6 linked regions of the Homo sapiens genome follow. The protein of the gene in region 3 interacts with the protein of the main gene of each other region in a pairwise test. Each region holds a gene or a part of one and is shown on either strand. Other genes may lie near its edges.

Region 1 (3,500 bases), on a different chromosome or scaffold from region 3:
TTCTGGGCTATGGAGGGCAGGTAAAGAAACCACTAGAATGACCAAAGATAAAGAGAAAGGACAAGAGGACGGACACAGACACTAGCACAAACACAGACACACACAGGCAGAGGAGCAACCCTGGAACTTGCTTCTTGAAGAGACGTAGATTTGTGCCAGAAACAGAGTGTGGGAGACAGAGCCCACACAGGAGATGTGTGGTCCAGAGAGGAGTTCAGGAGTTTGGTGAGGATGTGCAGCAGCGCCCAAGCAGTCTGGCATTATCACCCGGTGCAGCAGACTCGGGGCTTACACAGGACGATGGGATACCTGCAGAAGTGGGGAATGGAAGCATGAGAGCCTGTTCAGATTGGTGTAGCCCTAATGACTCCAAAGGTCAGGGCCTAAGAAAGGGTCAACAAATTGTGCCTTCAAAAACTGTTAAATGCGGCCGGGCGCAGTGGTTCACGCCTGTCATCCCAGCACTTTGGGAGGCCGAGCCAGGTGGATTACCTGAGGTCAGGCGTTCGAGACCAGCCTGACCAACATAGTGAAACCCCCGTCTCTACTAAAAATACAAAAATTAGCTGGGCGTGGTGGCAGGCGCCTGCAGTCCCAGCTACTCAGGAGGCTGAGGCAGGAGAATCGCTTGAACCCGGGAGGCAGAGGTTGCAGTGAGCCGAGATCATGTTACCGCACACCAGCCTGGGCGACAGAGGGAGACTCCATCTCAAAAAAAAAAAAAAAGAACTGTTAAATCCATTAAAAATGTACTCCCAACCAACAATGGCAGTCATGGGTCTGAGCCAAGTTTACTGAACTTACAATCCTGCCAGCCATAGAGTTTGTGTCATATACTTCCCTCACACTGAAAGTTACACAAATCTTAGTACCTGGGAAGACAGAGAAAGCCAAAGAGCTGGTCTTCTCCCATATATGTTCACAGCTGCGAATGTGTTAGGCAGAATTACCCTTTATAAAGTAGAGTGCAGCACCCCAGAAGCATAGGACAATGGACAGGTAAGTTTTGATGTGCAGAGAAGGAGGAAGATGTCCATATCCTAGAGATATCGTGAAAAGTGGTACTCTTGACTGTGGATCGAGTGCTAAGGTGAAGAGGAAAGGGGGCCTCAATACATACAGTCCAGGATTTCGGCCAGATGCATGCTTCCATCACGCCTTCCCAGGCCTGACTCATTACCCAGCCAGGGGACCCAGAACCTGGATAAGAGGAATCTATACACAGAAGAGCACAAGTCTACCTGGATTTCATCCGGTGCGTTCAGGAAATGGCTTGGGAGAAGGTTTGGAAGCATTCCGACATTGTTGACTGGCAGAAAGAAGCAAAACAAAAATGTGTCAGAAGATCAGGTGGGAGATTTTCCCAAAGAACCATGTACAAAAAGATTGACATGTAAGGTTGTTCATCGCAGCATGATTTGGTAACGGTGAGGAAACTGGGGGGAAGTTTTTGTCCAGTAATAGGAGACACCTTCAATGAATCATGGGGTTGTCATATGTTGGAATGCAGTGTAGTCATTAAAAACTATGGCTGGGCTGCTTACATGGGAGAACATGCATGATGTAAGTTTTTTAAAAATATATGACAAAACAGCACATACGTATAATTCCAGTTTTGAAAATATGTGTGTTTAGGATTAGAAAAATGTGCACCAAAATGCTACCTCAGAATATTGGGATTTTAAGAGATTCATATTTATTTTATTAGCCTGTCTATTCTTTCCAATTTTTCTGCAATGATATGCTGTACACTTTCATATGTAAAAATGTAATTATTTTTAAAATTCAGCAGAAGGTTTAGAAATCCAATTTGACTTTCTTCTATATATACCATAAACACTGCACTGTGCACGCGGCCGTAAAGTATCTTGTCTATAAATCATTACAGAAATAAATATTATCTTGTTTTCTGAATAAGAAAGAGAGTCAATTCTCAACTATACTATTTCATGGATCAATCACAGCAATGTTTGTTTGCTAAACTAATTCCTTTAGGCCAATGTTTCTGGGATTCTTTTTCTGCCAAATGTCAACGTCAGTTCCATAAAAGAAAATTCATTTTAATATTAGAAAATATAGTTGGTCCGGCCGGGTGCAGTGGCTCACACCTGTAATCCCAACACTTTGGGAGGCCGAGGCAGGTGGATCACGAGGTCAGGAGTTTGAGACCAGCCTGGCCAATATGGTGAAACCCCATCTCTACTAAAAATACAAAAATTAGCTGGGCATGGTAGCAGGCGCCTGTAGTCCCAGCTGCTTGGGAGACTGAGGCAGGAGAATCACTTGAACCTGGCAGAAAGAGGTTGCAGTGAGCCGGGATCACACCACTGCACTCCAGCCTGGGTGACAGAGCGAGACTGCATCTCAAAAAAAAAAAAAAAAGAAAAGAAAATATAGTTGGGGGTTGAAATATGTATGTTTGATACATTCCAAACCAATATATAAATTTTTTTATTCAGTAATGCCTCTAGAAGAAGTGTGCTTTGATATTCAACTTAATGGGACAGCTTAAAATACAGTCATGGTTTGAGTATAAATCACCATGAAATAATCAAATGTCACTCATCAGTGTCAGGTTATTTCACTGATGTATGACAACAAGCTTTGCATCTTGCAATTTACTCACCTAAAATTCCAATTTCTAAGCCTGCAAGTTTTTCTTTAATATGCTCGTAGATGTCATCTTTTGTAAAATCTGCTTGTATAATCTTCACACTCCTCCCTGTAGTCCGCTCTACACGAGAGACAACAGTTTTTTTAATGAACAGGGATCCAAATGCCCCCTCGCCCATGAAGTTTCCCCCAGTGCTCCTGTATTACCTGAGCAGACATTGAAGAGGACAGCCCATTGCCCCAAATAAAAATGGGACATGGTTCTGGGTAAATGTTGGGAGGTGCTAAGATTGGTGAATGGTGGTTCCTACGTGTCTCTAAGAGTTACTGCAGGGACACGTATATGCATTAAGATAGATTTACTGCAGCGGTTCTCAAAGTGGAGTCCACAAACCACAGCATCAGGGTTACAGGGAAACTTGCCAGAAATGCAAATTCTCGGGCTCTACCCCAGACCTATTGCATCAGAAACTCTGTGGGTGGAGCCCAGCCAGCCACCTGCTTAACACACCTCCGAGGGACTCTGCTGCTTGCTCAAGTTCGAGACCCCAGACTGACAGCTGTAAAAGCAAGGTCTGACACTGCCTCTGCTCACAAGTGTCAAGTCTCCTCCACACAGACCCAACAACTCTTTGTATTTGTCCAATGCTTTAGCATTCACAGAGCATTTACATACACAATGTCTTATGGTCATTGTCCCTACAACCTTCTAAAGTAGGCATTATGACTTTCATTTTCCAGAGGAGAAAATGAAGGCTCAGAGAAGCTAACTGACGTAGCCAAGACCATCCACTCTCTGGTCACTCCACGTTCAATGCGCTCCCCACTACTCTGTGTTAACTTGCCTTCTGCGGGAGTTTTCCGTCAGATGTGAAAGCTACAGAGTT
Region 2 (3,500 bases), on a different chromosome or scaffold from region 3:
GGAGAAGAGCTGCGATCTCACAGGAGATGGCAGGGAACCCCCAAGGCCCCTAAAGTGGGGAACCCACCCAGCCCTGAGCCTCTCCCGAGTCGTGGGCGCTGCTCCTGTTGTGGGAGGTGCCCATACACCCCTTCCTGGGCCACATCCTGAGACCAGCATCCAGGGTCCCTCTGATGTCAGAGGTGCCTGCTGAGGGAGCAGCAGGCAATGGGAACGCAGACCACCTTCCACCCCAGGCCCTTGCTCAGCTCCATCTGCCCACCTGCCGGAGCTGGGCTGACACAGCCATTCTAATCAACCCTGCTGAGGTCCTCAGAATGTTCTAGATGCATAATCGTGCTTGCTACCGGCCCGTCATGAGGAAGAGGACTCAAGCCCCTCAAATGGCTGTGAGCTGGCACTCCACGGGGCAGCCACTGCTGAGGAACAGGCATGGGGAAGAGGAGGAAACCGGCCCAGCCTCTCTGCATGGGAGGACTGGTGACCTGGGAGGTGGCAGGGAGAGGACCAGGGGCAGGGGAAGAGGCCCGCCTTCCCCCTCACCTCCCGTCCCCAGCCTGGGTATAAAAAGAAGCGTGAGCTGGTGAACACTGGAGCCGCCCCCTCCTGCAGCGCCCAGTGGGAAGGGGAAGGGGGTTTCCATGGTTACCATGGCCAAGGAGGAGAATATTCAGATGAAAGCAGAGGCAAAGGTTCACCCAGTGAGCTTCCATCTGAGCCTGGTTTCTGGGGCTCCCAGGAGCAAGCACTGTCCTCTCTGGAGCCAACACCTCCCTACGCTTGAGGAGGGCAAGCAGGGCAGGGAGACCTGCAGAGGGGTGGATGGTGCGTACCGGCCTCACAGCCCGCGCCCAGCCCCTGCCATGGATGAGCTGGCCACGGGCAGCAGGACAGGCAGCATGATGTGCTCAGGCCGGACCCAGACAGCAGGGTTGAGTCCTGCTCTGGGTAACTGAACTCGTTTCCTAACCCCTCTGTGCCCCTTTCCTGTCTGCAAAATCAGGGCAATGGACATAGCTGCTCCCAGGGCCATGGTGGGAGGTGAGAGAGGTCTCATTGGTGGAAAAGGGGCCAGGCCCTGGAGCGTCCTCTGCCCTCAGGAGGGAAGCAGCTGTGTAGCCACGGCCCTTACTGCTCCAGTCAACACTGTCGCTCCCAGAAGTACCTGTGAGGATGTTTTCGGACATCACGTTGACCTGCACCTCCACAGAGTGCTTGGAGGTGTAGGTGATCTCCGCGCTGACATGCGCCACCTCACCGATGCACATGGGAGACAGGAAGTCGGTGCGCTCGACACGAGCCAGGGCGGCCACACAGCGCTCCTGTGGAGACAGAGGCAGTTGTCAGCCCAGGTCAGCCAGCCCAGCCCCGAGAGCCCCACCCAGGACATGCCCCCTGGAAACGGTCTTTGCCTTTGCTTTCATTCCCCACTGTGAAAGCAACCAATGTATCACCATTTATTGGCACCGCGGTTTTTTTTTTTTTTTTTTGAGATGGAGTCTCGCTCTGTCACCCAGGCTGGAGTGCAGTGGCAAGATCTCAGCTCACTGCAAGCTCAGCCTCCCGGGTTCACGACATTCTCCTGCCTCAGCCTCCCGAGTAGCTAGGACTACAGGCGCCCGCTGGGACTACAGCGGGCCTTCCGAGTAGCTGGGACTACAGCCACCACGCCCAGCTAATTTTTTGTTTTTTTGTTTTGTTTTGTTTTTTGTTTTTGAGATGGAGTCTCGCTCTGTCACCCAGGCTGGAGTGCAGTGGTGCGATCTCCCCTCACTGCAAGCGCCGCCTCCCAGATTCACGCCATTCTCCTGCCTCAGCCTCCCGAGTAGCTGGGACTACAGGCGCCCGCCACCATGCCCGGCTAATTTTTTTGTATTTTTAGTAGAGACGGGGTTTCTCCATGTTAGCCAGAATGGTCTCAATCTCCTGACCTCGTGATCCGCCCGCCTCGGCCTCCCAAAGTGCTGGGATTACAGGCATGAGCCACCGCGCCCGGCCTAGCACCGCGCATTCCTAAACACAAAAGCACAGGGATGTAGAGGAGCCCTGCAGAGTCCAGCCCAAAGCAACTGCTGCAGGCGATTCCCCAAGTGATGGGATCACCAGCTGCTTCTTCCTTTCTTCTGATTTTCTCACAATAGGCATGCATTATTTGCTTAATATAAAGTGAACAAATGCATACATACCCATTATGGAAAATTTGGGAAATACAGAAAAGTAGAAAGAAGGGGAACGTCACTCCTCCCATTCAAAGATAACCATGGTTACTATTTTGGGATCTGTCTTTCCAGGCTTTTTTCCCAAGAATCGGGGTGGGTTTTGTTGTCTCACTTGTTCGTCTGCCTGGCTCGTTTCACAGTTTTAGTCTAATATAGCTGTGCAAAAACTAAGTATACACCCTCACCTTCTGATTCTTTTTCATTCAACGTAGGAAAAATAATCTGCCTGTGTTGTGACACATTCTTTGCAATCACTATTCTTCTTTAGGCCGGGCGCGGTGGCTCATGACTATAATTCCAGAACTTTGGGAGGCCGAGGTGGGCGGATCACATGAGGCCAGGAGTTCGAGACCAGCCTGGCCAACATGGTGAAACTCCATCTCTACTAAAAATACAAAAGTTACCCGGGCGTGGCGGTGCACATCTGTAATCCCAGCTACTCAGGAGACTGAGGTATGAGAATCAGGTGAACTCGGGACGGGGAGGTTGCAGTGAGCTGAGATTGCGCCACTGCACTCCAGCCTGGGTGACAGAGCAAGACTCCATCTCAAAAACAACAACAACAACAAAACACTAAATACACTCTCACCTTGATTCTTTTTCATTCAGTATGGGAAAAATAATCTGCCCGTGTTGTGACATGGCTCTTTGCAATCACTATTCTTTTTTTTTTGAGATGGAGTCTCACTCTGTTGCCCAGACTGGAATGCAGTGGTGCAATCTCGGTTCACTGCAACCTCCGCCTCCAGGATTCAGGCAATTCTCCTGCCTCAGCCTCCTGAGTAGCTGGGATTACAGATGTGCACCACCACGCCTGGCTAATTTCTGTATTTTTAGTAAAGACGGGGTTTTACCATGTTGGCCTCAAACTCTTGACTTCAGATGATCCGCCTGCCTCATCCTCCCAAAGTGCTGGGATTACAGGCGTGAGCCACCGTGCCCGGCCCAACTATTCTTTTTAAAAATTTAAAAGTGGCCAGGTGTGGTGGCTCACGCCTGTAATCCCAGCACTTCGGGAGGCCAAGGCGGGTGGATCACACGGTCAGGAGATCGAGACCATCCTGGCTAACATGGTGAAACCCCGTCTCTACTAAAAATACAAAAAATTAGCCGGGTGTGGTGGTGGGTGCCTGTAGTCCCAGTTACTCGGGAGGCTGAGGCAGGAGAATGGCGTGAACCCGGGAGGCGGAGCTTGCAGTGAGCCAAGATCGCACCACTGCGCTCCAGCCTGGGCGACAGAGCGAGACTCCGTCTCAAAAAAAAAAATTTTTTTCAATGTTA
Region 3 (3,500 bases):
TGAGTTGACACTGGTATTATTTCTTTCCTTTAACTAAGGGTTTGAAGAATTCAAGGCAAAAATTTGGGTACCTGGTATGTGTTTGTATTCTAAGCTTGTCTTATGCATGATTTTCTTGTTTACTTAAATTTTATGGCCATATTCTAACAGAAATATGCAAACTAAACTTCTTATAAGCCAAACAGAATGAGACTGAAGTTTCTGAAGAATAGTCCCAATTGTCTTATAGTCATATCTTCCTTTATGTTCACTTGAATTCTTGCATAAAATATTTAGAGTTTACACATACTAAAGTTATGTGGGAAGAAGGGATGAAGGTAGAATCTCATAATTCCATGGAGACAATGAAGTTTGTTGACTATCTCAGTCTGGGCCTTAGAAGCAGGACCAAGTTTGAATCTCGGCTCACTTGCTACATGTATAACTTTAGTAAATTATTTAATTTCCCTTAAGCTTCAAAAATACCAGCTTGCAAGCTAGTAGTAGCAGTAGTAGGATGCATGTACAGATGTATCTGTCCTAATTGTAAATGGTATGTGTTATGCTTTCTAATCCATGCATTCTGTGTTAATATGTGCTAAACTGGATTATTCCATGTTTCTTAGTCATTCCCTGGAGTAACTACATACTGGTCGTTTGGGTTCGGTGTTAGCTCCTTCACACACTAATACATTACACATGCTGTCTCTATAGCTCAAGTTTTGCATGAACAGTTCCCTGGTGGCTTTCGCTGTGATTCAAACCAAACAGTGAATAGATTTATTTAACAACTTGTGTTCACAAAAGTAAATCAGGAAAACATGCAAGCCAGAACAATGTTTCTTCCAGTGATTTTTATTAAGTATTGCATTTCACATATTTTCTTAATGGAGTTTTAAATGTTCAGTATTTGTATCTTTATTCATTAATGGACCAATCCAACTGCCTTTAAATGCCTTTAAAAGTATTGCTGATGATTTTTATCAGAAATATTCAATGTTAAATTTCCTTCTAGTATTAGGCTTCTTAAAGAAATGACATTATTAAAGCTACTAAACAGAAGCTTTATAAAATCTCTTAACTTTGATAGCATAGATTAAGTTTTCTCTTTTCTAAGATATATTTTGACTTTAGAAACGTATCTGCGACTACATATTTTTTTGAATTTTTTAATAGGTGGTGAAATGACAGAACTCATTCGCTTCTTTGATTGGTGATTTTGAAATAATCTTTCATCAAGTTCCATCTCCTTTACCCTCATATGGAATATATCTCTCTGTCTGTTGTTAAACTACGATGACATGTCTGTAGCTATCAGAAAGAGAAGCTGGGAAGAACATGTGACCCACTGGATGGGACAGCCTTTTAATTCTGATGATCGTAACACAGCATGTCATCATGGACTAGTAGCTGACAGCTTGCAGGCAAGTATGGAAAAAGATGCAACTCTAAATGTGGACCGCAAAGAGAAGTGTGTTTCACTACCTGACTGCTGTCATGGATCAGAGCTGAGAGATTTTCCTGGGAGGCCAATGGGTCATCTTTCAAAGGATGTGGACGAAAATGACAGCCATGAAGGTGAAGATCAGTTTCTTTCTCTGGAAGCCAGCACAGAAACACTAGTGCATGTTTCTGATGAGGATAACAATGCTGATTTATGCCTTACAGATGATAAACAGGTTTTAAATACCCAAGGGCAGAAAACATCAGGCCAACATATGATCCAAGGAGCAGGCTCCTTAGAAAAGGCACTGCCCATCATACAAAGTAACCAAGTTTCTTCTAACTCCTGGGGAATAGCTGGTGAAACTGAATTAGCACTGGTAAAAGAAAGTGGGGAGAGAAAAGTTACTGACTCTATAAGTAAAAGCCTGGAGCTTTGCAATGAAATAAGCTTAAGTGAAATAAAAGATGCACCCAAAGTAAATGCAGTGGATACTTTGAACGTGAAAGATATTGCACCTGAGAAACAATTGCTTAACTCTGCTGTAATTGCTCAGCAACGAAGGAAACCTGACCCCCCTAAAGATGAAAATGAAAGAAGCACCTGCAATGTAGTACAAAATGAGTTCTTGGATACTCCTTGCACAAACAGAGGACTGCCATTATTAAAAACAGATTTTGGAAGCTGCCTTCTGCAGCCTCCTTCCTGCCCCAATGGAATGTCAGCTGAAAATGGCCTGGAGAAGAGTGGTTTTTCACAACATCAAAACAAAAGTCCACCAAAGGTCAAGGCAGAAGATGGCATGCAGTGTTTACAATTAAAGGAGACCCTGGCCACCCAGGAACCCACAGATAACCAAGTCAGACTTCGTAAGAGAAAGGTAAGACATATGCACAGATTCTCTGGCTTTTGAAATTTTGTAAATATCCTTGGATTTATCAGTTATCATTTTGCTTGGATTAAAAAGATATGAAGATGGTTCTTTTGCCCTGTTATGCAGATGTGTAATTCAACGACTACCCACTTGGTCAAACCATCAAAATATGTAAAAATTAAAGAATAATAATCTATCCGTTTCACTAATAATGTGTATAATGGTTTATGAATATTCTATTTCAGAATTGTGTTGAAAACAGGATTGGTATCCCTTTCTTTAGTTGGAATTAAATAGCCACTAGATAGCTCATAGACATGCAATTCAAGGCATTCTGTAGAGTGATTTCTAATTCTTATAAAGAAAGTCATGGTACTGTTATAGCATTTATTTGGGCATATTTCTTTTTCTCTTCAAAAAGACTATGTTTTCATAAGAAAAAAAGGTGGTATAAATCACATATTTAAAATAATCCCCTCACATATACAAAGGCTAAACTACTCCCACCCCCAAAATGTGCTGGTGCCATTTTAAGTGATACCCTGGCACACTCACCATCAATATATATATCATAGTCTCTGTTTCTTGCCACAACTGTTACTTAACTGTCAACCAGAAAAGGCTAATAACCACAATTATGTTTTATGCTACAGCCCCTTTGACTAATTCTAAAGATGCCATCCTCCCCTGCGAAGCTTTCAAGTGAGAGAAGCAAGGGCTAAGATGGTGCTACCTGAATTATGGTTTAGCAAGTGAACCCTTGACCAAAACCTGTCTTTTCTATAGAATTTCCCCACATTTTTCCAAAAACTGTAGTGAGTTATAGTCCTGATATAAGTCCAAGCACAGTTTCTTCTTCTATAAACCCCACATGGCCAATGGCATGGAAGAAACCCTGCATTTTTGACACTGGTATGCACTGATTAAAACATATATCCTTGCCCCTCTCTTGATACATTCATCCATAACTGCAATTCTCCTAAACACAAAAGTAATGTTCTTTGTTCTGTTCAACTGGGGCTATCTACCATGAGAGAGAAAAAAAAATCTACTACTTTCTTTGTAGTGAAGAAATCTGGTTTTCATAGACTGTGGTTTTGCTTACAAACTAGATCAGTAATGTGTCGTGAGTTAGTTTAAATGAAGTCAAAGACTTTACAGCAAAAATCAGTGTCCACAAGCTATATGCTAACAGAGCATTTT
Region 4 (3,500 bases), on a different chromosome or scaffold from region 3:
CATGGCTCACTGCAGCCTCCAACTCCTGGGCTTAAGTCATCCTCCCATCTCAACTTCTTGAGTAGCTGGGACTACGGGTATGCACTACCACCCCCCTCTCCAGCTAATGTCTTTTTTGAGATGGGGGTCTTGCTATGTTGCCCAGGCTGGTCTCAAACTCCTGGCCTCAAGCAATCCTCCTACCTCAGCAAGTTTCTTTTTTAAATAATGAATGAGTGTTGAATTTGTTCAAATGTTTTTTCTCCATCAATAGATACGATTATGTGATTTTTCTTCTTTAGCCTGTTGATATGGTGGATTACACTGACTGATTATGAATACTGGATCAGTCTTCCATCACCAGAATAAACCCCACTCAGCCATGGTGTATAATTTATTTTATGTATTGTTGAATTCTATTTGCCAATATTTTGTTAAGAGTTTTTGCATTTATTGATAAGGAATATTGGTCTGTGGTATTTTTTTGAACAATCTTTGTCTGGTTTTTGTATCAGGATAACACTGGTTTCATAAAATGAATTGGGAAGTGTTCCTTCCTATTATCTTTTCTGGAAGAGACTGAATAATCTGTGAATATTTGTTATGTTTTTCCAGTAAACCATCTGAGCCTGGAGATTTCTTTTCTTGGGCATGAGTTTCTTAATAGTATTGAGCCCTGTAGATAGCCATTCAAAGTATCTATTTTATATTGGGTGAGTTAGAGTATTGTAGTTTTTGAGACATTGGTTCGTTTCATCTAAGTTGTCAAATGTATGCATGTGGAGTTGTTTCTAATATTCTCTTTTTATCCTTTTGAAAAACAAGGCAACCTGAGATTAACAATCTACTGCATAAATACACAATTCTCTGATCATTTTCCCAAGATAAATTCCCAATAATTAAATAATTGGGTAAAAATCTTTTGATACATATTGAAAAATTGTCCTCCAGAAAGAGTGCATCAATTTATACTTTTACCACTAATAATAAGAGAGTTCATTTTAATTCAGCCTGGTAAACACAAGATAGCATTGTCTTTTCAACTTTGTCAATTTGACAGGTGGACAAAATGACATCTCTTTTGTTTTAACTTCTATTTTTTATGAGTCAGGTAAAACCTTTTATATGTTTATTTTGACCATTTTTATTTTGTAAGTTGTCTCTTTCATGTCTTGCTTATTTTTCTATCAGGATATTCAACTTCTTGTTTATTTTAATAGCTCTTTATATATAAAGGATATTAATGTCTTGTATATGTCACAAATATTTTCCTCGATTGTCATTGCCTTCTTATTTATGGTGCCTGTTTTTGCAGTGCAGTTTTAAAATTAAAATTATTCATGACATTCCATATGTTTTCTTCTCTTGTCTTTATGTTTAGACTGAATTTCTCCTACATCAAGACAGGGTGACACAAATATTCTTGTCTTTTCTTTCTGGTTTTATTCCCCACCTCTCTACCAAACTCATCAACTCATCTGTAATTTATTTCTATGCATGGAAAAAAAAGAATGGTTCAGTTTTTGTATTTGTCTAACACGGTCCTGAGATTTCAAAAACCCAGTTTATATCAGCAATCTTCATTGCCATGACACCTTTCTCAGTAAATTTTATAGTAGTTTGCAAATGATTTAGTGCGTCTTTTTATTTTTTTCTACACCAATAAATATCTGAGCCCATCAGATAAGTGGTGCTTCCTACCACTACTTTTTGGTAAAATTAATGAAAATTGCAAGAGCTCCATGTATTTGGTGGTAGAAATTATGAAATGTGGACTTTTTTCCTTTTTGTTGAGGTATAAAGCATATAGCAGAGCATACAAATCTTAATGGTACATCTTGATAAATTTTTACAAATATATAATATACACTTATGTGTATTTATAGAATATTTTACATAACATCCAGATCCATTTATATAACATTTCCAGCAACCTAGTGGACTTTAAGCCTAGTGAAGCCAGGCCTAGTAGTCTCTTCCAGTCACTATCACCTCCTGCCAAAGGTAACCTCTATTCTCACCTTTATCACCAAATCTAACTTTATCTGGTTTGGAACATCATCTAAATGAAATGACACTGCATATGTTCTTTTGTATGGCTTATGATTTTCAAGTTTATTTCTTTGCAATTTTACCTATGTTGTTATACATAGCAGTTTGTTCTTTTTCATTGCTATGTAGTTTTCTGTTGTATGACTATATCACAATTTATTTCTCCATTCTCATGTTGATATGCATTTGGATTTTTCTGGTTTGGGGCTACTATGACTAATTTCTCCATCTTTGGGCAGACACAGAATTCCTTTCTTCTGTGTGGGTCCCAGGAGTGAAATTGCTTGGCCATAGTGTGTAAATATCTGTTTAGCATTAGTAGGTCCTATCAAATGTTTTCCAAAGTAGTTATACTATTTGATAGTCCCACCAATGAGGTATAAGAATTCCAGTTTCTTTGCCAACACTTGGTATGCTTAGTCTTTTTAGATTTAGCCACTCTGGAAGAGGAGAATGGTGTCTCACTGTGGTTTTAATTTCCATCTTCCTAACGTAACTGGGCAGCTTAACTTCATAATATATTTTAAAACATTTTTCCCTTCTCTTGGGTTTCAAGATATAACCTTGAAGCAAACTGCAGAAGTCTTTTCTCTTAGCTATAAAATAGCTCCCTTTCTCACCATATATACTCCCTGCACATTTAGCTAACTGCATGCTAGTATCTATTATGTGCCTTCTTAGAAGTTCCAGGAGGTAATCTTGAGACGGACAGACCAAGCATGGAGACCTAGCTGCAAAATTCCAGAGATTACTTCCATGCAGCTAATTAACAACTCGGCCACTGTTGAGATGATGTCAGCCTGAGGTCCAGGTGGACTGGCACCAAAGATAATCATAAAAACAAGACCCAGAGATACTGTACTCAGCACAATTCTCTTGCATGCCCTCCTTAATCAAGTTTTCCTCTTTTAAACCCCTCCCTTCCCCCGAAATAGTCAAAGTGGTTGCTTTGATGGGAATCTGGCCACTTCCCCTTTACTAGTTGTGGTTAATAAAGTCACTTTCTATCTACCAGGCCTCACTCTTGTTAACTGGACTCTGCAGGCAGTGAGCATGTGGACCTGCATTCAGTTACAATTTTAGTGGCCCATACAGTGTGCTCTGGGGGCCCAAGCCCATGGTCTGGTTTCTATTGGACAGGGCCTGTGGGGCTGCCTGTAGGCTCCAGTTGCTTGTGGCTACCTGACCCCTTGGCTGGAATGCTAGGGAGTCTCCTGCAGCTGCCTAGATGCTTTTGTCTTGGGGATCCTCTCTTTCTCTTCCTGCTGCAGTGCCTGCTACCTCCAATATTTCACTGGTGCACTGAAAGTGACTTTTAGAGAAGTGACAAACTTTGGAATTTTGGAACTTTGAAACTTCGGAACTTGGTGAGTTAGTCGGAGTGCATTTGACCACCATCTGCCTCTTTTGGGATGTCACTGGGACTCTGCTCTATTTAGACTTGGCCACTAGTGACACCATTTGAGCAT
Region 5 (3,500 bases), on a different chromosome or scaffold from region 3:
CAGCTCCTCGTCTGTGCAGCCTGCAGGTGGATGCTGTATATGGCTTGATTATCAAATACATTATTTTGTGTAAAGAATTCTAAGTTGCTACAGTATATATCAAATGAGGTATACTGTAAGGGGTCAAAAGCTGCAAAAGCACTTCTTGAAGTTAAGAAGTCAGGTAGATAGGCATGAGTGGCCATATTATACCTATTCCTAATTAATAAATTAAAGATCTAGAAGATGAAAGGATATGCATGGTAATTGCAGCCAGTGACAAATTGTTAGGCACTGCAAATACAACCAAATACAGATGGCTAATACAGATGGGCTGGGGGCTGGGGGCTGGGGGAAGTACTATAAATAAGCATTTCATCATTTTTCTAAATCTACTGAAATTCTGTTTCATGCTACCCGCTCCATGGAGCCTTCTCTAAGAGACTACAGGACTAAAATGCTCTCCCAGCTTAGCACTCCTATAGGACTTATTGGGTGTACCATGCTAAAGGCAAGGAATGTAGGCTGCCTCATACTGTAGTTATTTCTGAAGAAACTGTATTTCTTTTAGTAAACATTTTAGACAGTCTTTGGAGATAAAAACCAGTGTTTTTTACATCTTTATAGTGCCCATCGTTCCTTGCATATTTAAAAAAAGTATACCCTGTTCCATTTTTTGTGTATGTTTGAAATTTCCGTTGTAAAAAAGTGTTTTTAAAAGATTACCTCACCAAACACAGTTTGAAGTCAATACCAAAAAAGTATATATGTTCACTTCTAATATGAGGCTATAGAAAAAAAGAAAAAAAGGTATAGATGTAACAGAGCAGTCTAAAATAATATTGAAAATTATATTTAAAAAAGGAAATCTAGGCCGGGTGCGTTGGCTCACGCCTGTAATCCCAGCACTCTGGGAGGCCGAGGCTGGTGGATCACGAGATCAGGAGTTCAAGACCAGCCTGGCCAACATAGTGAAACCCCGTCTCTACTAAAAATACAAAAATTAGCCAGGCATGGTGGTGCGCGTCTGTAATCCCAGCTACTTGGGAGGCTGAGGCAAGAGAATCGCTTGAACCCAGGAGATGGAGGTTGCAGTGAGCTGAGATTGTGCCACTGCACTCCAGCCTGGGTGACAGAATGAGACTCTGTCTCAAAAAAAAAAAAAAAAAGGAAATCTAAAGATGATGGTTATGGCACCTCAGCATTTTGAACTATTACTACAAGTAACCAAGGTGACAAGATAAATCATAAAATTCTGATAAATTTTTTGAAAAAGATATTAATAGTAATCCAAGTTCCTTAGGAAACACATATTTTTTCCTAGATATTAAATCCTAAAGAAGTTGTTATTTAAATCTCTGTATGAGGAGATCTGAGTAATGTAATAGTCCATGTCTTCCCAGGTAGTTTTTCAAAAAATGCAAAAAATACCTATGTGGCCTAAACTTTAGTCTGTACTCTCTCATGGTTGTGGGCAAGTCACTTAACCTCTACATGCCTTGGTTTCCTTGTAAGTGAAATGAGGTAAATAATATCGGCCCAATTTCATGTGGTGGTTATAAGAATTATATATAATAACTTACATGAATGAATTATTCAAATATAAATTAGGACTCATATGAATACAGGAAACACTTATAGTGCTTGTATATGTCAGGCACCGTTTAAATAATTTAGTTATTTTGTTATCTCATATAATCTTCACATCAGTCTATGAAGTAGGTAGTTATTATTTTCATTTTGCAAATGACAAAACTGAAACACAGAGATGTTGAGTAACTTGCCCAACACTTGTATTTGATAATCAAGCCATATACATTATCCACCTGCAGGCTGCACAGATAAGGAGCCGTGCCTGGATTGCAGGTCTAGAAACCCTGAGTATGAGTTTACTCAGGGGTAGTGAAGTAATACACACAGACTAAATGCAAAGAGACTAGTATATAAACCAGAGTGCCAATCTATTCGTTTATAATGAGAATTATTTATTTTCCATAATATTTCCAAGGGCTCTGGCTACCAAGTAGGGGAGCCAGGCTACGAATCTAGTCATTCTGGCTTTAACAGCCAGGCTCATAACCATGCACTCTGCTGCCTCTCTCTGAAACTAATAAAGTTTCACTGTATGGTGTGTTGTAGTGAGAAAAGAGGGCACAGGCCTTAGCATTATAGAGATGTATCACCAGAGCAAGTCCAGCCAGCTGCCAAGAGGCTCACTAAGGTGTTATCCATTTGAGTGAATACCCTCAGCCCAGCAAGCCCAGAAACCTGATTCTGTTAGCACACTGAGACTACCTCCATTTATCAGGGGCAGAGCTCATCAAGCAGATTTAAGGAGACTGACATATAAACCTAAAGACCAATTTTTAAATGAACAGACATACAAAGTCACATAGTAGAAAATACCTGGACTGGCTGGGCACAGTGGCTCACGCCTGTAATCCCAGCACTTTGGGAGGCCAAGGTGGGCGAATCACTTGAAGCCAGGAGTTCCAGACCAGCCTGGCCATCATGGCGAAACCCCGTCTCTACTAAAAAATACAAAAACTAGCTGGGCGTGGTGGCCAGTGCCTGTATTCCCAGCTACTTGGGAGCTGAGGCAGGAGAGTCACTTGAACCTGGGAGGCAGAGGTTGCAGTGAGCCGAGATTGTGCCACTGCACTCCAGCCTGGGCAGCAGAGTGAGACTCTGTCTCAAAACGAGTGAATGAATGAATGAATGAGAGAAAGAGAAAAAAGAAAAGGAGAGGAGAGGGGAGGAGAGAGGAGGGGATGGGGGAGAGGAGGGGGAGGGGAGGGGAGGGGGGAGGGGAGGGGAGGAGAATACCTGGGTTCTGGGCTCCCAAACAAATGCACCGTCTCTGTAGATAAGTACTTGGGAAGCCAAGTAATGATTGGAAGATTGCTTAGTGGTATGGAATTTGGGAGCTAATTGGATAATCTTCAATAGACCTGCCACAGGACCCTAATACAAATATTTCTACTGTAAAATGATACACGTGTTCCTAAAAAAACCTCACTTTCTGCAAAATCATCCTCTATAAAGTTACAGTGGTTATGGAGGTGGGGCAAATAGGCTTGGGACAAATGATTCAAAACCCTTGCAACATTTTAACACTAACTAAAACAATAATTGGTACCAGGAGAGAGAACTTGGATGGTCTAGACAAGCAGTTTACTGTGGCTGGAGGCTGCCTCAGGGGATAGTAAATGCAAATATAGTGTAATTGCAGGCTTGAAGCTGCTGAGACCTGAGCTCTGAGCCAGCGGGGTTGCCGTTAAGTTGGGCACAGGAGGGAAGTGCAAGCTGCCACTTGATGGAGAGCTGCGCAAGGCTGGTGTTGTGCCTCTCTGAGGAGGGAACCCTGGATGCTGGCTGAAAAGAATCCTGCTTATACAACAGCCAAGCTGAAGGCTTTTTCTTTCCAGCTGAAAGCTTTAATTCTCTTCCCACTATTCTGCTTTCTTCTGACTAGGAAAAAATCATGAACCAACACAACCCCCACATTATACTGACATCAT
Region 6 (3,500 bases), on a different chromosome or scaffold from region 3:
TTACAGAGCCAGTAACTAGTAGACCTTGGATTTGAATCCAGCAAGGTGGTCTCCAGAGTCTGTGTGTGTGTGTGTGTGTGTGTGTGTGTGTGTGTGTGTGTGTGTGTGAATCAGGAAGATAGATTGTGTTTCATTATGTGTCAATTGCTATTTAAGGCCCCCCAAAGGACTAATGAAGGATTTGAGTCTGCCCTTCATTGCTCCTAGGTTCCCTGGCCTTGTGCAGACTGATCCGGAGTCCGCCTTAACTACTATGCCCTCTGTCTAGTGGCCTGTCTTGACAATATACTGAGGATTGGGGTTAAGAAAATAGTTCCCTCTCCTGAAAGACTGATTGATGTTCTTCCTTCTACTATCAGACACCAAGAGTCCTCCCATTCATCTTGTCCCCCCCTTTCCCCTTGGCTGCCATGAGTCATCTCAGAGCCAATTTGAGTGTCCAAATACAGTTGTCATCTTCAGCCAGGGCACTGGCATAATTTTCTCTCTTTATTCTCTGTATCGGGTGCTCTTAACCCGGACTTTTGAATAGGCTTCAGGGGAATCACACACCCACTGAAATGATATGCAAATTGTTGTGTATATGAATATATTCATTTTTGTGGAGCAAGAATTCATAAGCTCTAATCAGATTCTCCAGGAGTTTCGTGATCTTAATCTTCAGGGTTTCTGCCTGTCTTTCTAGAATTTCTGTTCTTACTAGTTGCATTGGTCATGTAGTTTATTTTTTAAGCCATCTCAAGCCTTTTTAATGCTGTAAGTGGAATACAATGTAAAACCATAATAAGCAAATGCGTGCAATGTTGCTATCCATTCTGAATTTTTAAATCTCTCTTGGTTTGCATGGAGGAAGTCTGTCCTCACGTCTCCCTCTCTCTTACCTTCACTTTGCACACTTCTGAGTGGTTTTGATGTCTCAGGGTCTCAGGTGTCTCAGGTTCCCATCCCAGCACTGCCCAGGCACCCATCTTGTGCTCATAGATCCAAACTTGCAAGAAGTTTGCTGACCAGAAAGAGCCCTTGATTTTGATCCAAGGCACAAATGAATTCATTTGTAGATTTAAAAATCCACTATCTTAATGCAATGGCCAGGAGGAAGCTTTGTGGTAACTAGCACTCACCTTGGTGTTCAAAATGTGGTGGTTTGTAGATACTAGTCAACACCACCTGACTAGATGTTTATTAGAGCTTATTAGGAATTATTAAGTTTATTTTCTAATCAACTTATTAGAGCTTATTAGAAGCAAGGAGCTTTTTAGAAACTCAGACTCTCAAGCCCCATCTCATACCTACTGAACCAGAATCTGCATTTCTGAAAAGATCCCAAGTAATTTCAATGCACATTAAAGTTAGAGAAGCACGGATATAAAACAAGAAGACTCATTTCTCAAGTTTGTCAAACCCTGGAGAGCACTTCAGTTTTCTGGAATTGGATGACCTGGGACAATTCCTACTAGGGTTCACTGTCCCATTACAAAAGGTAGGTAACAATACTTGCTGTTCCTCCCTCATGGGGTTACTGTGAATTTCAAATGAGCTCTTGGATTCACACTAGCTACGTATCATGATGGGGCTGATAGGAGCTGGAGAGCTGGCAGTGGGGAGCAGAATAGGTGTGGTCTCTGCCCTCATAGAGCTGATGATTTGGTCGGGTAGGAGAACATGCTGTAAATGCTGGTTGGTGTTGTGTGACTGTCCTGGTTATCACAGAGCCTTCATTCATTTATTTCATGCATTCATTCATTCATTCGGTGGTCAGCCATTTATTAAAACCTGAAGTGCCTGTACTATGTCACACATTAAGCTCTGAGCTGCACATGGGGAAGCAGAAATAAATGAGTCAGAAACCTCGTCCTCAGGGAGCTTTTAGTCTAGCCAGAGACAGAGATACATCATTGGGTGGTTCCATTTAGAACACACTCTGGCTGGTGCTCTGAGTTGGCACAGGGGGCTGTGGGGGTACAGGTAAATCAATGAAGAACTTTGCTTTTAAGGGTGATTACAAGTTCACAGACTGAGAAGAGGGAGAACAGCACTGAAGGCCGAAAGAACAGCAGGGGAAAGGCAGGGAGGCATGAAGGCACAGCATGCTTTTGCCATGGCCAGAAGGTAAAGAGAATTTGGAGGAGTGCCTAGAGATGATTTTGGAGAAGTAGCTTGAGGCCCGGTCTTAGAGGCTAATGAATCTGGTCTTTATCCCTTAGGAAATGGGGAGTCCCTGAAGGGAGACAATTGACGCAGGTGAAGATCTTTTAAGAGCAGCATGGAAGAAGGAATGACTTGAGGCAGAAATACCTTTAAGAGGCTCTGAGAGCAGCTTAGGGGAGAGAGGAAGTCCTTACTGGGGTACTGGATGTGGCGATAGAAATGGATGTAAGAGAAATTAAGGAAGGTAGCATTGACAGGACTTGGTGGGCAAATGAATGGGGTGGTGAAGAGAAAGGAATCAGGAGGCAGAGATGTCTATAGATGAGGAGCACAGTCCAGCTTGATGCAAGAATTAGGGAGTTGGGAGGTGACTGGAGTCGTGGGAGTGAATGAGACTGTGAGAGTGTGCGGTGGAAAGAGAATAGGGGTAGGAGTGGCACCAAGGCACCAACAGCAAAGCGATGGGCAGCAGCGATGAGTCTATGAAGGAGGCTGAAGGATGCCCAGAGGCAGTTCTGCTTTCCTTCATTCCTTTGGGCATGGAGAGCAACAACGCAGTGGTCACAACTCATCACCCTCCAGAATCATCGCTAGAAACGGCCCTGGGGTCACCACCCTTGAAGCCCCAGAGTGAGTGGGGCCTGAGGCTGGGGCCCCTGAGAACATGAACTGAGACAGGGATGGACATGCGTGGACGGACGCAAGCCCTTGTCTCCCTCTCCCTCCCTCTTTCCTCCTCACAGATGGTAATGTCCAACCCTTTCACAAATCATTTTTTTCTCTGAAAGAAAACCAAAAGGACATAAGAGAAGGAGAAACAAAAGGCATGCTTGAGTTTGTTTAGTTTTTCAGATCAGACAAAAACCCAGCAACACCTAACACGAAAGAAAACCTCCCAGACCGTGTCCTAAGTTGACTCCAATGAGCTCATTCTCTCATTAAGAGCAAAGAGAATTAGGTTCTATCATGATTAGCCAAAGGAAGATTTTACAAAACAAAACAAAAGAGAGGAAATGGCCCGGAATTGTGCTATCTGGTTCATGCTTTTCCATAGAAACAGGCCTGTGGTTTTAAACTGATAATGGCTCCTAGCAGCCCAATAATTGATTTATCTGGTGTTCTGGCTTTAAGGGAAAAGTAAACTGGCCTCTTTAGAAATGTTGGCAGCCTGGCTGGTCCATTAGTAAGACTGAAAAGTCAAAACATTGACTGGAAAAGGCCATTACGACCGGGCTCAGCAGGAGTCATCGATAGATGATGTCATTTCAGAAATAAATAAGCCAAGGTTATGAGGCCCCAGAGCAGGGTCAAAACACTCTTCACAGCCCATCACCATCCTCCATCGCAGATAC

What was found.
Region 1: the proteins of DLC1 (region 3) and HSD17B3 interact in a two-hybrid assay, tested with the Homo sapiens proteins (one large-scale study listed by BioGRID and IntAct).
Region 2: the proteins of DLC1 (region 3) and ACOT7 interact in a two-hybrid assay, tested with the Homo sapiens proteins (one large-scale study listed by BioGRID and IntAct).
Region 4: the proteins of DLC1 (region 3) and FBP2 interact in a two-hybrid assay, tested with the Homo sapiens proteins (one large-scale study listed by BioGRID and IntAct).
Region 5: the proteins of DLC1 (region 3) and HEMGN interact in a two-hybrid assay, tested with the Homo sapiens proteins (one large-scale study listed by BioGRID and IntAct).
Region 6: the proteins of DLC1 (region 3) and TMOD1 interact in a two-hybrid assay, tested with the Homo sapiens proteins (one large-scale study listed by BioGRID and IntAct).

What each region holds. Positions count from the first base shown.
Region 1 is NC_000009.12:96,250,177-96,253,676, forward strand, and holds part of HSD17B3 (17-beta-hydroxysteroid dehydrogenase type 3), read right to left. Parts: intron 2,735-3,500; coding exon 2,627-2,734; intron 1,310-2,626; coding exon 1,242-1,309; intron 86-1,241; exon of another isoform or gene 1-85. UniProt on the Homo sapiens protein: Catalyzes the conversion of 17-oxosteroids to 17beta-hydroxysteroids. Favors the reduction of androstenedione to testosterone. Testosterone is the key androgen driving male development and function. Uses NADPH while the two other EDH17B enzymes use NADH.
Region 2 is NC_000001.11:6,338,268-6,341,767, forward strand, and holds part of ACOT7 (cytosolic acyl coenzyme A thioester hydrolase), read right to left. Parts: intron 1,323-3,500; coding exon 1,166-1,322; intron 1-1,165. UniProt on the Homo sapiens protein: Catalyzes the hydrolysis of acyl-CoAs into free fatty acids and coenzyme A (CoASH), regulating their respective intracellular levels.
Region 3 is NC_000008.11:13,497,852-13,501,351, reverse strand, and holds part of DLC1 (rho GTPase-activating protein 7), read left to right. Parts: intron 1-1,155; 5' UTR 1,156-1,280; coding exon 1,281-2,303; intron 2,304-3,500. UniProt on the Homo sapiens protein: Functions as a GTPase-activating protein for the small GTPases RHOA, RHOB, RHOC and CDC42, terminating their downstream signaling.
Region 4 is NC_000009.12:94,573,325-94,576,824, forward strand, and holds part of FBP2 (fructose-1,6-bisphosphatase isozyme 2), read right to left. Parts: intron 1,331-3,500; exon of another isoform or gene 1-1,330.
Region 5 is NC_000009.12:97,931,673-97,935,172, forward strand, and holds part of HEMGN (hemogen), read right to left. Parts: intron 1-3,500. UniProt on the Homo sapiens protein: Regulates the proliferation and differentiation of hematopoietic cells. Overexpression block the TPA-induced megakaryocytic differentiation in the K562 cell model. May also prevent cell apoptosis through the activation of the nuclear factor-kappa B (NF-kB).
Region 6 is NC_000009.12:97,504,666-97,508,165, reverse strand, and holds part of TMOD1 (tropomodulin-1), read right to left. Parts: intron 1-3,500. UniProt on the Homo sapiens protein: Blocks the elongation and depolymerization of the actin filaments at the pointed end. The Tmod/TM complex contributes to the formation of the short actin protofilament, which in turn defines the geometry of the membrane skeleton.